Linked DNA regions of Homo sapiens: all the other regions are reported to be linked to region 3. The links are microRNA targets in miRTarBase. Many come from high-throughput screens and were not tested one by one. Region 3 holds a microRNA gene; each other region holds the end of a gene's coding sequence.

Region 1 (4,230 bases), not on the chromosome of region 3:
AGCAGGGACTGCAAGCTCCCTGAATCGCAGAGGAAACCGTGGCCTTGCCCAGCTCAGAGGGGACGGGGACTAGGTGAGAGGGCAGTTGTGCCAGGGCGGCCGCCTGGACCCCACGTGCCCTCGGGGTCGACGGAGACTCCGAGGCCCACAATCTGACCTGTGACAGCACCCCCACCCACGATGGCCTGAAAGCGAGGGGGTCCCAGCCGCCCGTGTGTGGCCGGTCTGGGGAGGGGCTGTGGTGGGCGCACGCACAGCTGTCCCGCGGTCCTCTCAAAGTCCTTTATTGTACAATGTCATCTGTTTCGGGGTCGGGGAAGGACTAACAGGTACACAGCGAAATAGATAAATATGCCAAGCTCTTTTCTTTTTAAATCAGGCATTTATAAACAAGAAAGCATACATTAATTACATAAAAATAGTTTCCGAGTAGCAGAGTAAGCATCATACTGTCGTTAGCAGCAGCGTGGGGCACGGGCAGGGGCGGGGGTCTGGGTGATGTTAAAGGTAGAGATGGAGCTTTTTCCTTAATTGAAAAAAAAAAGTCATTTGTGACTCCTGACTTAAAGCGAGAACGAACATCTCCCTGGACCCTGGTGGGCTGAGGGAGGGGTGGGGGGGCCGGGGTTCGGACCCACAGGGAGGAGGGGGTGGGGGGGGGGCCGGGGTTCGGACCCACAGGGAGGAGGGGGTGGGGGGGGCCGGGGATCGGACCCACAGGGAGGAGGGGGTGGGGGGGCCGGGGTTCGGACCCACAGGGAGGAGGGGGTGGGGGGGCCGGGGTTCGGACCCACAGGGAGGAGGAGGTGGGGGGGGCCGGGGCTCAGACCCACAGGGAGGAGGGGGTCACATGGGAAACGCACATGGGTTTCTCCGTCTCCCCTGCCCCCCGGCAGGAAAGCATTTTTTTTTTCCTCAGTTAAAAACAGCCCAGAAAACAAGACAACTCTCAGGTAAGAAAAGAGTTTCTGAAAAAGGACCCAGCATATACATGTATAATACAACGGTGAAAAAGGAAAAAGTATTTACAGGTGAACTGTTTTTACATTGGCTAGTTCTGTACGAAAAGCAGACATTACGTGTATGAGTTAGCTGCTCCAGAGATATGAATGTTATTGCTGTTGTTTTTCCCTTCGTTAAAAATCTTCTTTCAGTATAGAAATATAATGAGAATTAAACTGAATACACAATCACTTAGATGAAGGGCCTCACACACAGAGGAGTCAGCAGCCCACACAGCGGACACCTCTTCCCCCTTCTGCTGAAAAGAAACGGACTCGCACCTGTGCCAAGGGGAGCCAGGCGTGCACCCCTCGGGGCCTGGGACCCCTCAGTCCAGAGCAGCCCTGCAGCCACAGCTGCCCCCTCAGGCCCCTGACAGTGGAAGTGACCCTGGTGAGCCGAGGCAAGAGCTGTGGGAACTGCCTGGGAGGGTCCCGAGCTCGCCTGCCCACGTCCGGGTCCCACTGACCGCACGGGCCTGGCAGCTGCAGGAAAGGGTGGGCCCAGGTGACACTGGCTGGACCCTCCCAGAGCCGAAGTGGGGAAGGGCTGCCACTGCAGATACAGCGCTTTCCGTTTGGGGCAAGATGGGGCGGTGGAGGCGTGGACCCAACGGTGACCGTCGGGATGGAGCAAGGGCAAGGAGAGGCTCTGGCCCAGACACAGCTTGGAAAAGCTCATCTCCCTCTGGGGTCTAAAAACTCAAAGCAAACGGAGCAAGCCTGGCGGCCCTGGGGATGGGGCAGGGCCTCTACCTCACTGTGATCTTCGACCTGGCGACACAGGACAGCCACACAGAAGCACGCCAACACACTTAAAGCTTTGCTCCAACTAAATCATTTAGTTTCCCTTGAAGAAATAACTGAAAAAAAAAACAACTCTGGTAAAACAAGGCTAAAAACAGCATTCTGCATGTTGCATAACAAAACCGACCCTTTACAAGACACGGTAATAATGCCCGCTGACGGATCTACCTACGGCAGAGGTGTGGAATCCATGCACACAGAACAACCGCAAAGAAAACAAAAGCAAAGAAAATTCCAAACAAACGCTGCATATACATGATGTCCCTTTTGCATTGCACTTTAGAAGGGGTGGGGGGCTTCAGCAGCAACCAAGACCCCCCTCAGTAAACCAAGGGCAAAACCCCGCAGGCAATTCCGCCACCCAGATGCGAGGGCTCAGCAGTCTCTGGTCTTTGCTCGTCACTGCCCCGAGGTCGTCTGTACCTGGGCAAGTAACCTCCACCTTCTGTGAGCGCGTGCAGCTGCCGCGGGTGTTAGAACGGATTCAAGCAAAGAACTCCTGTAAGATCTTCTTATGTAAATAAATACCGTAACTGTAGGATAGGTAGCCGCCTCTTGTCTACTGGGAAATCATTTTTCAAGCTTGGGCATAAGAAACCTTATACAATTTGCATAAACAGGTGAGAGTAAACGAGATTATTTGGAATAAATGCAAGGAACTTATTCTGAGAGTGGCAGATTCAGTCGCTACTGAAGACAGATATCTTGGGGGTAAAAAGACACGAGTCAGGATTTGCTGTACAAGATGCTGGAAGGCACAGAACGACCCCCGAAGTTCAGTTTTTGCATTTTCGTTTTCTTGTGATTCCCTTGTTCAACCAAGCACCAGAGGGGGTTTCTAAGCACTCGAGCACTTCGGATTTGACTGCTCTATAAATCGGTAAAAACCTCAGTTCACTGGGGAATAGAAAGAGAAGGGAAGGTTGTGGACAAAGTGCAGTTCTAAATATACGTTTAAATGAACGAACAAAAAAAAAGAAAGAAAAATTGAAATAATGCTCTTTTGTTCCAATGCTGCAGCCTCAGTCCCAAAATGAAGGGAGCGACGTTTGCCGAACTGAAAAGGGTCGCCCGGTCAGGCGGCACGTGTGCCCGGAGGGGCTGAGGGCGTGACCGCCAGCCACGGTCACCACCCGACGCAGGTCAGTGCCTCGTGGTGGAGGAGCGTGGGCAGAATCACGGGGTGCAGAGGAGCCGAAGACCGTCCCCTCAGCTCCGGGGCAGCTCCTGTGCGGCTCTGCACTTCCTGGTACCCGTGGGGACAGCGCTGGCATCGACGGCGGCGTGGCGGGCGGGGTAGGCGGCAGTAAGGCGGGCAGTGTTCGAGCTCATCTCGCACGCGGCACTGTCCCTGCTCTCCCTGGCAGCAGCAGGAAGACCTGGGTCCTTGTCGCTGAAAAAATAGACTCTGAAGAAAAACCCCTGCTGTCCTCACGCAGCCGCGGGCAGATGAGCTGTGATGGCTTCCCCGGGTGGGGAGGGTGGGGCGGCCGCCACCCCCACTCCGTTGCGGGTCTTCAGATGGCGTCATGTGTTGGGGCTTTTAGAAGTTAGTCATTTAAAAATGTGTTGATTTTCTGAATTTCAAGTCTCCTTACTGGTTTTAAATAGCTTATAACAAAAGTGTAAATGTTAGAATGTTCCAGCAAGCAGAGGACCAGCAGGCCGCCGAGCTGGCCCCGTCTCCAGCTGTAGTTGGGGGACGCGGCTTACTCACTTGAACTTGGCCAGTAGAAAATTTTGCAGTGGGTTCCAAAACTACATGGTTACAAACACTCGCTTGGTAATAGGCACGGTAAGACGTTGTGCTGTGTGGGCTGCAGGGGCGGAGCCGGGCGGAGCTGCACCGCCCAGCCGCGCCCCCCTGCACCCGCGTTGTCGGCGGCGCTGCGGCGGCAGGCACGGAATCTACGGCTCCAGCTCCGCAGCGCCCTCGCTGCCCGCAGCCTCGGGGCGGGCCCGCGGCCACAGCTGTTCCTGCAGCTCCTTCACCACCTTCTCCAGGTGCTCCCGGGCCTCGCGCTCCCGCAGCAGGTCGGCCCGCAGCTGCTCCCGGTCCGCCTCCGCGTGCTGCAGCTTCACCTGCAGGTCTTCGATCTGAAAGGGAGCCGAGTGGTCAGCGGCGCCTGCTCGCTGCCCTGCCCCGGCCCGACGCTGCTTCCCCCACCCGAGGCTCCTGCGCCGCTCCCTGTCCCTCCCCAGTGCCGCGTGCCGGCCCCTCCTCCACCTGCTAGGACACAGGCTCACGAGACGCAGGGCCCAGCAACCACCCACCCTGTGCCCGTCGGGGGGGCACGCACGGAACGTGGTCCCGGGCCTGGCTTCTGCTCCAAGGCCTTTCCGGCTGGGCAGGACTGGCCACCGGGGCCCACGGCGGCTCCACGCCCACCGTGCTGCGTGCCTCAGTCTCCCCACCCGCATA
Region 2 (4,244 bases), not on the chromosome of region 3:
CTGTAAGAGAGAAATAAACCTAATCTTATTTAAGCCACTGCTATTCTGGATCTTGTTACAGCAGCTAAATTAAAATTATAATACAATTCCCAAATTGTGTATATTTATTCATAAATCATATACCTATATTATTGACACATTTAGGTTAATGAAACAAAAAAAAAAGGTTATTAAAGAGATTTAAGTTATTTTGTTCCTATGACTTAGTAGATTGTCCATCTCATGAGAAAGAGTACTCAGGTTGAACCCTACTAGTATATTGAGTGACAGCATGAGAGGGTGAGATTTGGAGTTAAAGACTTGAGTCCCTGTGACTTACTTGCTGGGGGACTGTGGACAAGTTACTTCACTTGGCTAAACTTGTTTCTTCAGCTGTAAAATGAGGATACCATCTACCTAAGAGGAGAGCTGTGAAAATAGGTGAGCACATATATGTTATTTAGCATATTTGCCCTCATATAGTCAATGATAGCTATTTTTTTTCAAAATAGCAATCAGTAGTTTCAGTGATAATGACTACAGCCTTTCCCACTGCCCTTTTTTTAAATATTAAAAAATACTTAAAAAATAAACAAGTGTTACATATCCAAATTCTTCAAGTTTGACAACATTATAAGCTTTTAATTGTTTTTCCAATAGGTGAGGGTTTTTCCTGACTCTTGCCAAGTCCTTACATACTCTTGCCTGGCCTATTTTGTCACCAAAGCAGTATGGATAGGCAGGTTAGGATCTACACTGTGGCTATAAACATGGTGAAAGTAGCTAATCCTTGTGGAGGCTTCTTACCACTCATAGAAAATGCCTAAAAGGTGTATTACGCTCACTCAGTATGAATGCAGTATTTTCAGCATACCCATAATTAAATATTTAAAATATTAAAAAGTTTGGATTAAGGTCAACTGAGATTTATGAGTATCATTTATTCCACAGGCGTTTAACAAGTACCTCACATGTGTCTAGAGGCCTTCTGAGAACTTGTAGTTTAGTGTAGGAAAAAGATACGTATAATTGCTGTTTCATAGTGAAGTGCAAGTGCTGGAATAGAGGTATAGTTTTAAGGCATATAGAAACACAATCCTCTCATCCTTATTTCATATATTTCCATCACTGAAACAAAAATTTACCTGAACCCCAGAACCACCATCAAAATGAAGTTTCATGGAAAGGATATAGGATCTAAAAGTAATGGGGACAGGGTATGGTATGCATATTTCTATTCTTCTGTTATTGGATACAAAGCACTTTGTTTGCTAAACCCCTACAATGAGAAAGAACGCAGATCTATTTAATATTTAGTGGCTGTATAACCTGGGAATAAGTATATTTATTTGTTGGGGCTTGAGAAGGTCCAATAAATGGCATACCTCCTTTCCATTCTGGGTTGTGAATATAACTAAGATGAAGAATGAATAAACTAATATAGAGGCCTAAAAAACACCTTTATTTGCTGATAAAACTATTGGAGAAGTTTTTTTTTAGGAGACAGGGTCTCATGTGTTGCCAGGCTGGAGTGCAGTGACTATTTATAGGTATGATCATGGTACACTTTAGCCTTGATGAACTCCTTGGCTCAAGCAATCCTGCTGCCGCAGCCTCCCAAGCAGCTAGGACTATAGATGTGTGCCACTGTGCTCAGCAAGAGAATATGGGTTTCATCTTAAGGCCAGTAAGCTTCTTATCACTGAACTCTAGAACTGGACAGATTTACCCTGTCTCAAGCATTGCTCTACTGGGCCAGGCCTCATCCTGCAGAGGCAGAGCCTGATCCCATAGAAGCAGAACAGAATGAATGTCTCTTCAGATGGGCTGGTCCCAAACAGGAGTGGGGAGGAAGTGGGCTAATTGCACCTTGTTTCTCCTTCCAGATTTACAATTGGGCAAGTCACTTTACCTAGGGCAGAGTGGATAAGGGGATGAAGAGTGACGACAGTGTTATGCTACTGGAGCTTCCTTCACATGGAGGAAAGACGCATTCCCTCTTAATATTTTAGAATATTTTAAATCTTAACAAACCAATAATTTACTTGTTTATGTCTCTCTCCTTAAGATTGTCAATTCAATGAGAATGAAACCATGTTCATCTCTGTGCACACAGGGACTAGCATGCTGTTTGGCATATAGCAGGCAGTCATATTGGTTAACTGAACAAATGCAGTATACTTTGTTACAGTGGACTTTAATATATATGGTAACTTATTAATTGACTCAGTGAAAATTAATCTATAATATACTAAGAACTCTCTTAGGCAATAGAGATAAAAATGAATCAGAATGTAACAGGATAATGTCAAGGTTTTTCTTTTGAAAACAAACCAGCAGTTAGATTTTTGAGGAAAATATAGTTGGAAAGCCTGACTCTCACTCACTGGACCATATGGACCAATCTCTTGACTGCTCTATACTGCAGATTCCCTGTTTATAGCTAAACAAATGACAAGGCTATTTTGAATAATGATTGTCAAACTTTTATAGCTATTACCAAGGCATTATGAACTCAAAATGTTTACTTTCTGGTCTTGTCTTCTTGATCTGGGTAAGACTGAAGAACTAAGATGAAAAGGATATTTTAAAATTTCTTTGAAATTACATATGATTTACTAATAGATATTACTTTGTAAGAAAAAATATATCTAATAACAAAACAAAATACGAATTTAAATTTTCCTATGAGTTTCTTGAGAGTAGGTACTAGATATCAATGTTTGCTGAATTGAAGTCATTAAGAAAAGCTTTGTTTTATGTAATAAATTTAAGATGGGTTAACTTAAACTACATTAAGAAGCAGGGATAAACTGGTTTTTGAGTATCAAATATTTAAAAAATACATGTAATAATCAGAGCTCAATATTTAGCAACTCTACAGATTTCATATTAAGTGTTGTAATTTGCACTAAAGCACACATTTATTTATTTAGGTAATGGAGTCTTGCTCTGTCACCCAGGCTGGAGTGCAGTGGTGCTATCTCGGCTCACTGCAAGATTCTCCTGCCTCAGCCTCCCGAGTAGCTGGAATTACAGGCATGTGCCACCATGCCTGGCTAATTTTTGTATTTTTAGCAGAGACGGGGTTTCACCATGTTGGCCAGGCTGGTCTAGAACTCCTGACCTCAAGTGATCCACCCGCCTCAGCCTCCCAAAGTGCTGAGATTACAGGTGTGAGCCACCGCGCCTGGCCTATCATTTTAAAATTTATTGTTTTAGTTCATTACCAAAAAGAAATCAATCTCCAACTATATGGTAAGTCACTTTGAAAACCCACACAACTTTGTTGTAATAATCTTTCATTTTATAGAAAAATGTAATTATGCAATGGTTATCAGGAAAGTTAATTCAGTAATAAATATGTAGGCTAGGGAATGGTTTACAAATATTCAACCAATACCCACAAAATCCTGTATGATTTACACAACTGTTCAAGCAAACATAAGAAAACTCTGGTTCAATTTCTATTAACTATCAAAAGGACAAAATGCTCTTCTATCTCAAACCAGGTCTGAGTGACAGCTTTTCAATATAATAAAGACACACACCTGCACTCACACACACACAATAAAGACACAGTATCTCTTCTCATTCTAAAACACTTCCTCTTTTAGTCCGTATACACTTCGAATAATCTTGTGTAGTAAATTTTTGCTGCAACTGACAATGTTCAAAGTAAATCTCTCCCGGTTTGGTGTTCTAAGAAGCCAACAGCCACAGCAGGATGAGCATTAATACTACTTCCAGAATCTATAAAATCCCAATGCTATTGCCAGGCAAGTAAACACCGAAGCTGTGAAAAGAAGAAACTGTGTTATAGGTCTTGTATCTGTAATTATTTTGCAGAGATAAAGAGAATAATGTTATCTTTAAGTGAAGAGCAAAAAACAGGAAATCCAACCAATTTTCTATCCTATGTTTTTTATTCCCTAGACAATTAAGTATGAAAGACATTCTTAAGGGCAGCCTTAATGCCTAATTCTTCTTAAAAGCACCTGTATATTAAAATGTAAATTATGTCATTTAGAAACCTATAACCTGTATTTAAAATCATTAACGCTAGCATTATTGACTACTTTAAATAATTATAAGCTCTAATTTCAGATCTCATGATAAATGAAATCTTTCTTATATTAAAAAATTACGTAGTTAGGCTAGTAAAATATACATATATCTGTGAGAAGAGAATTTTAATTGCCTTTTCAGTACATTTTTAAATAATTTCTCATAATTCTTAATAAAATTTTAATAAAAACTCTTTA
Region 3 (4,244 bases):
TCCTTATCTTTGACCATTGGAGTTTATTAAATATCTTGAAGTTTTCTTATTTGGGCTAAATCTGCTTCATGCTCCATAACTTCAATTACATGTGGAATTTAAAATAACTAAACTCATAGAAGAGAGTAGAAAATGGTAGTTACAGAGGCTGGGGGTAGGGGAAATAGGGGCATGATTGATTTCCTTGAATATTGGTATCTTTGTTTAGGTTTCTCTGTTATTATTCCTTTGAATAAATTTTCTATCCCTACCACTATTTCTATCTGCCCTATTAAGGCCAGTAACTCTTAGATTCGCCTTTTACAGGCTGTTTTCTAGATCCTGTAGGCATGCTTCATTTTTTTTATTATTTTTTCTTTTGGATCCTCTGTGCATTTTCATGTAGTCTGTCTTCAGGCTCACTCATTCTTTCTTCTGCTGGATCAATTCTGCTATTAGATACTCTGATGATTTCTTCAGTATGTCTATGGCATTTTTCAACTCCACAATTTCTGCTTACTTATTTTTAATTATTTCAATCTCTTTGTTAAACTTATCTGATAAGATTCTGAATTGCTTCTCTGTGTTACCCAAATTTCTTTGAGTTTTCTCAAAACAGCTATTTTGAATTTTCTGTCTGAAAAGTCCTCATATTGCTGTTTCTCCAGGATTTCTCCTTGGTGCCTTATTTGGTTCATTTGGTGAGTTCATGTTTTCCTGGATGATCTCTATGCTTGTGGATGTTTATTGGTGACTGGGCATTGAAGACTTAGGTATTTATTGTACTCTTCACAGTTTGGGCTTCTTTGCATCTATCCTTCTTGGGAAAGGTTTCCAAGCATTCAAAGAGTGTTGGGTGTTGTTATCTAAGTTTTTGGTCACTGCAGCCATATCTGCATTAGGCAGGGCTTTTCCTGTGGCTCTTGCAGACTTGTAGAGGTACTACCTTGGTAGTCTTGGTTAAAATCCAAAAGAATTCTCTGGATTCCCAAGCAGAGACTCTTGTTTTCTTCCCTCGCTTTCTCTCAAACAGAGTCTCTCTCTCTCTCTCTGTGCTGAGCTACCTGGTGCTGGGGGAGGGGGTGACACAAGCCTCTTTGTGGCCACCATCACTGGGGCTGCAATGGGTCAGATCTGAAGCCAGCACAGCACTGGGTCTCACCCAAAGCTCATGGTAACCACTGCCTAGTTACCATCTGTGTGTACTCAAGGCCCTAGAGCTCTACAATCAGCAGATGGTAAAGCCAGCCAGGCATTTGTCCTTTCCCTCAGGGCAGTGAGCTCCCCCAGCCCTGGGTGGGTCCAGAGATGCCAGCTGGGATCCAGGGCCTGAACTCAGAAACCTTAGGAATCTACCTGGTGCTCTATTCTATTGCAGCTGATCTGGCACCCAAGCCACAAGAGAAAGTCTTTCCCACTCTTGCCTATTTCTTCCACAAATAGAAGAGTCTCTCCCCTTGGCCACCACCAGCCCAGGCTTGCAGCAAGTACTTTCTGGTTACTGCTGATGTTCACCTAAGGCCCAAGGACACTCCAGTCAGCTTGTGGTGAATGCTGCCAGGCTGGTACTCTCCTTTTAAGGCAGTGGGCTCTCCGCTGGCCCAGGGCAGGTCTAGAAATTCCATCCAAGAGCTGAGGCCGGGAATTGGGACCCCTTAGGCCCAATTTTGGCCATGGTGGGTAAGAACACAATGGAATAGTGTTCTAACCCATTGTGGCCAAATTGGTACCTAAGCTGATTTTCGGTTCTCATGAAGGTGCTTTTTTATTTAAATAGTTGTTCAATTTGGTGTTCCTGTGGAGGGGACGACCAGCAGAGACTTCTATTTAGCCATCTTGCTCCATCTTCTCCCCTAAAAATTGTTTTTAAATGAAGGTACAATAAAGATATCTTTGAAAACAATGGCTGAGAAAATTCTTCACCACAGACCTGTGCTAAGGAAATAAAAACTAGGTCTTTCAGCTAAAAAGAAAAGGGTCCCAGTTACAAGCAAGAAGATGTAATAAGAATTGAAGTAAATATTTTGGGCAAGAAAGAATATTGATAATTATTGATCTAATCTTTCATTTCAAAAAGCTAGTGGCAGAAGAGCAAGTACAAAGAAAGTAGATGAAAAACAGATAATCAATATAGCCCCAAAAGTCAATTCACTAGAAAATAGGCACACAAAAAAAATAACAAAAGCAAAAACTTTAAAAATATTATTGTGATATATTAATATATTAACATTATATATAACTACAGGTCCTACAGAATTTAGAAGAAAATAAAGGACATTACTAACACTTTGATGCTGGTAATTTGGAAAAAAAGGACAAATTACTTGAAAAACCACAAGTAATAATTCACAAAAATAAAAAATATGAACACTCCAATATCTACTAAAAACATGTAATTTTAAGCTTTTCTTACAAAGAAATCTTTAGACCTAGATGACATCTCTGGAAAATTCTTTCAAACATGTAATGAAGAGAAAAAAATACATTCTAACAAAAAATTATCCAGAAAACAGAAAACAGAGGGAAAAATTTCTTAATTTACGAGGCCAGCATAACCCTGATGCCCAAACCTTACAATAACAATGTAGGACTGGAAAAGTATAGCCCAATATATTTCATTAATCTAGATGGAAAAATCCTACCCAAAATATTATCAAATTCCACCTAGTAGTGTATTTAAAAATCATAGGTTTTATATAAAACTAATTGGAGTTTTTGCCAGGATTGGAAGTTTGGTTTAATATTTTAAAAATCAATCAGTGTAATTCATCAAATTAGAAAAAATAGAAAAACTTTATGAATATTTCAAAGGAATGTGGAAAAAAGCATTTAGTAAAATTTTACATCTGTTAATAAAAGAGAAAACCCATTTGATGATTTTAGTATATTCAATAAAAAAGCTCTTAATAAGATTCTACACTTGTTCATGATTTGTTTAATTCAGTAAGTTAGGAACAGGAGTGTATTTTCCTAATCTGATAAAGAGGTCTACTAAAAATATATAGTTAATGGTAAAGTTTTAATGCAATTGAACAAGGATAAGGAAATAATATCAATTATCAGCACTTTTATTCAACATTTCACTGGAGTTTCAAAGCAGTTCAATAAAGCCAGAAAAAAATATAAATTTTCTGCAGAAAATTTACAAGAATCTACAAAAAAATTAAAAATAAGAAAATTTACAAATAAATGTTTCCAATAATCAGTCACCTCCATTTCTTTATACTAGAAATAACTGAAAAATGAAATTTAATTAAAAAGCAAAATCATTTATAATAACATCTAAAAGGGTCCACTACCTAGGATCACATATATAGAAACATTGCAAGGCTTTTTCCTTAAGGACCATAAAACATTGGTGAGAAAAATTAATATCAAAATAACTAAATAGATATACTCTGTATATTGACTGAAAGACACAATATTGATAAAATGCCAATCTCCCTCAAATCAACATAATCTCTATCCAAATCCCAGCCTGTTATTTTGTGCAAATTGACAGTTTTATTCTAAAATGTACATAGAAATGCAAGGACTTTATATAGTCAAGAAAATATTACAGAAGAAAAACTAAACAGGAAAACTTATACTACCAAATATCAAAGCTTTTATAAGGCTAAAAATAATTAAGATGGTGAGGAAATAATACAACAAAAGGTAAACAAATGAAACAAATTAGAGAGTTCAGAAATACACTCACTCAAAAATACTTAGCTGGTTTTGATAAAACACTATTGCAATTCAATGTATAAAGGATGTCTTTTTGATAAGTGGTTCTGGGTCAATTGGCTATCCATATAAAAATAAATTAACCTAAATCCATACATAATATCATGTATAAAAATCTTATATTTAAGGACCATCAAAACCTAAATGTGAAATATAAAACAAGACTTTCATAGGAAAATATAGAACATTATTGTCATGATGGGTGCCTCTTTCTTAAACAGTATATAAATAGCACTTACCATAAAAGATTGAAATATTAAACTTTTATTATATCTATCTGACAAAATAATAATATTAATATATGTAATGCTTATAAACCAGGTATTATACTTGCTGGAAGGAAAATTGTACTTGCTGGAAAGCACTTATCTGGCTTTAGAACATATTTTATTAAGCAGACCATATTTACTCTCAGAAATGTTGCACTGGGAAAATCAAACTTGATCAAACAGCCCAAGAAAATGATGATATCCAGTAAAATTAAGAAACCCAGCACAAACAGTGTCTATACTCTGAAATAAAAATTCTCTACCACA

Evidence for each region. The annotated mature microRNA hsa-miR-588 reads UUGGCCACAAUGGGUUAGAAC and lies in region 3 at 1,681-1,701, opposite strand. An mRNA with a match to its seed (bases 2 to 7 or 8) in the 3' UTR can be bound and repressed. Matches are read on the target gene's strand: a 7mer-m8 pairs with bases 2 to 8, a 7mer-A1 pairs with bases 2 to 7 and ends in A, and an 8mer does both.
Region 1: miRTarBase lists SKI as a target of hsa-miR-588. Seed matches in the 3' UTR shown: 7mer-A1 at 3,532-3,538.
Region 2: miRTarBase lists CCDC90B as a target of hsa-miR-588. Seed matches in the 3' UTR shown: 7mer-A1 at 3,079-3,085.

Annotation. Positions count from the first base shown.
Region 1 is chr1:2,306,252-2,310,481 of GRCh38, reverse strand. It overlaps SKI (SKI proto-oncogene), which reads right to left. Exons shown (of 7, transcript NM_003036.4): 7 at 269-3,905. The coding sequence ends at 3,717. Among named protein-coding and RNA genes, the nearest start is that of SKI, 80 kb to the right of the region's middle. RefSeq lists an enhancer at 3,195-3,828.
Region 2 is chr11:83,258,192-83,262,435 of GRCh38, forward strand. CCDC90B (coiled-coil domain containing 90B) reads right to left here. Exons shown (of 9, transcript NM_021825.5): 9 at 890-3,775. The coding sequence ends at 3,720. It also overlaps a transcript of ANKRD42 not described here. Among named protein-coding and RNA genes, the nearest start is that of CCDC90B-AS1, 26 kb to the right of the region's middle. RefSeq lists a silencer at 1-10.
Region 3 is chr6:126,482,103-126,486,346 of GRCh38, reverse strand. MIR588 (microRNA 588) reads right to left here and starts at 1,716; the gene lies at 1,634-1,716. It also overlaps a transcript of CENPW not described here.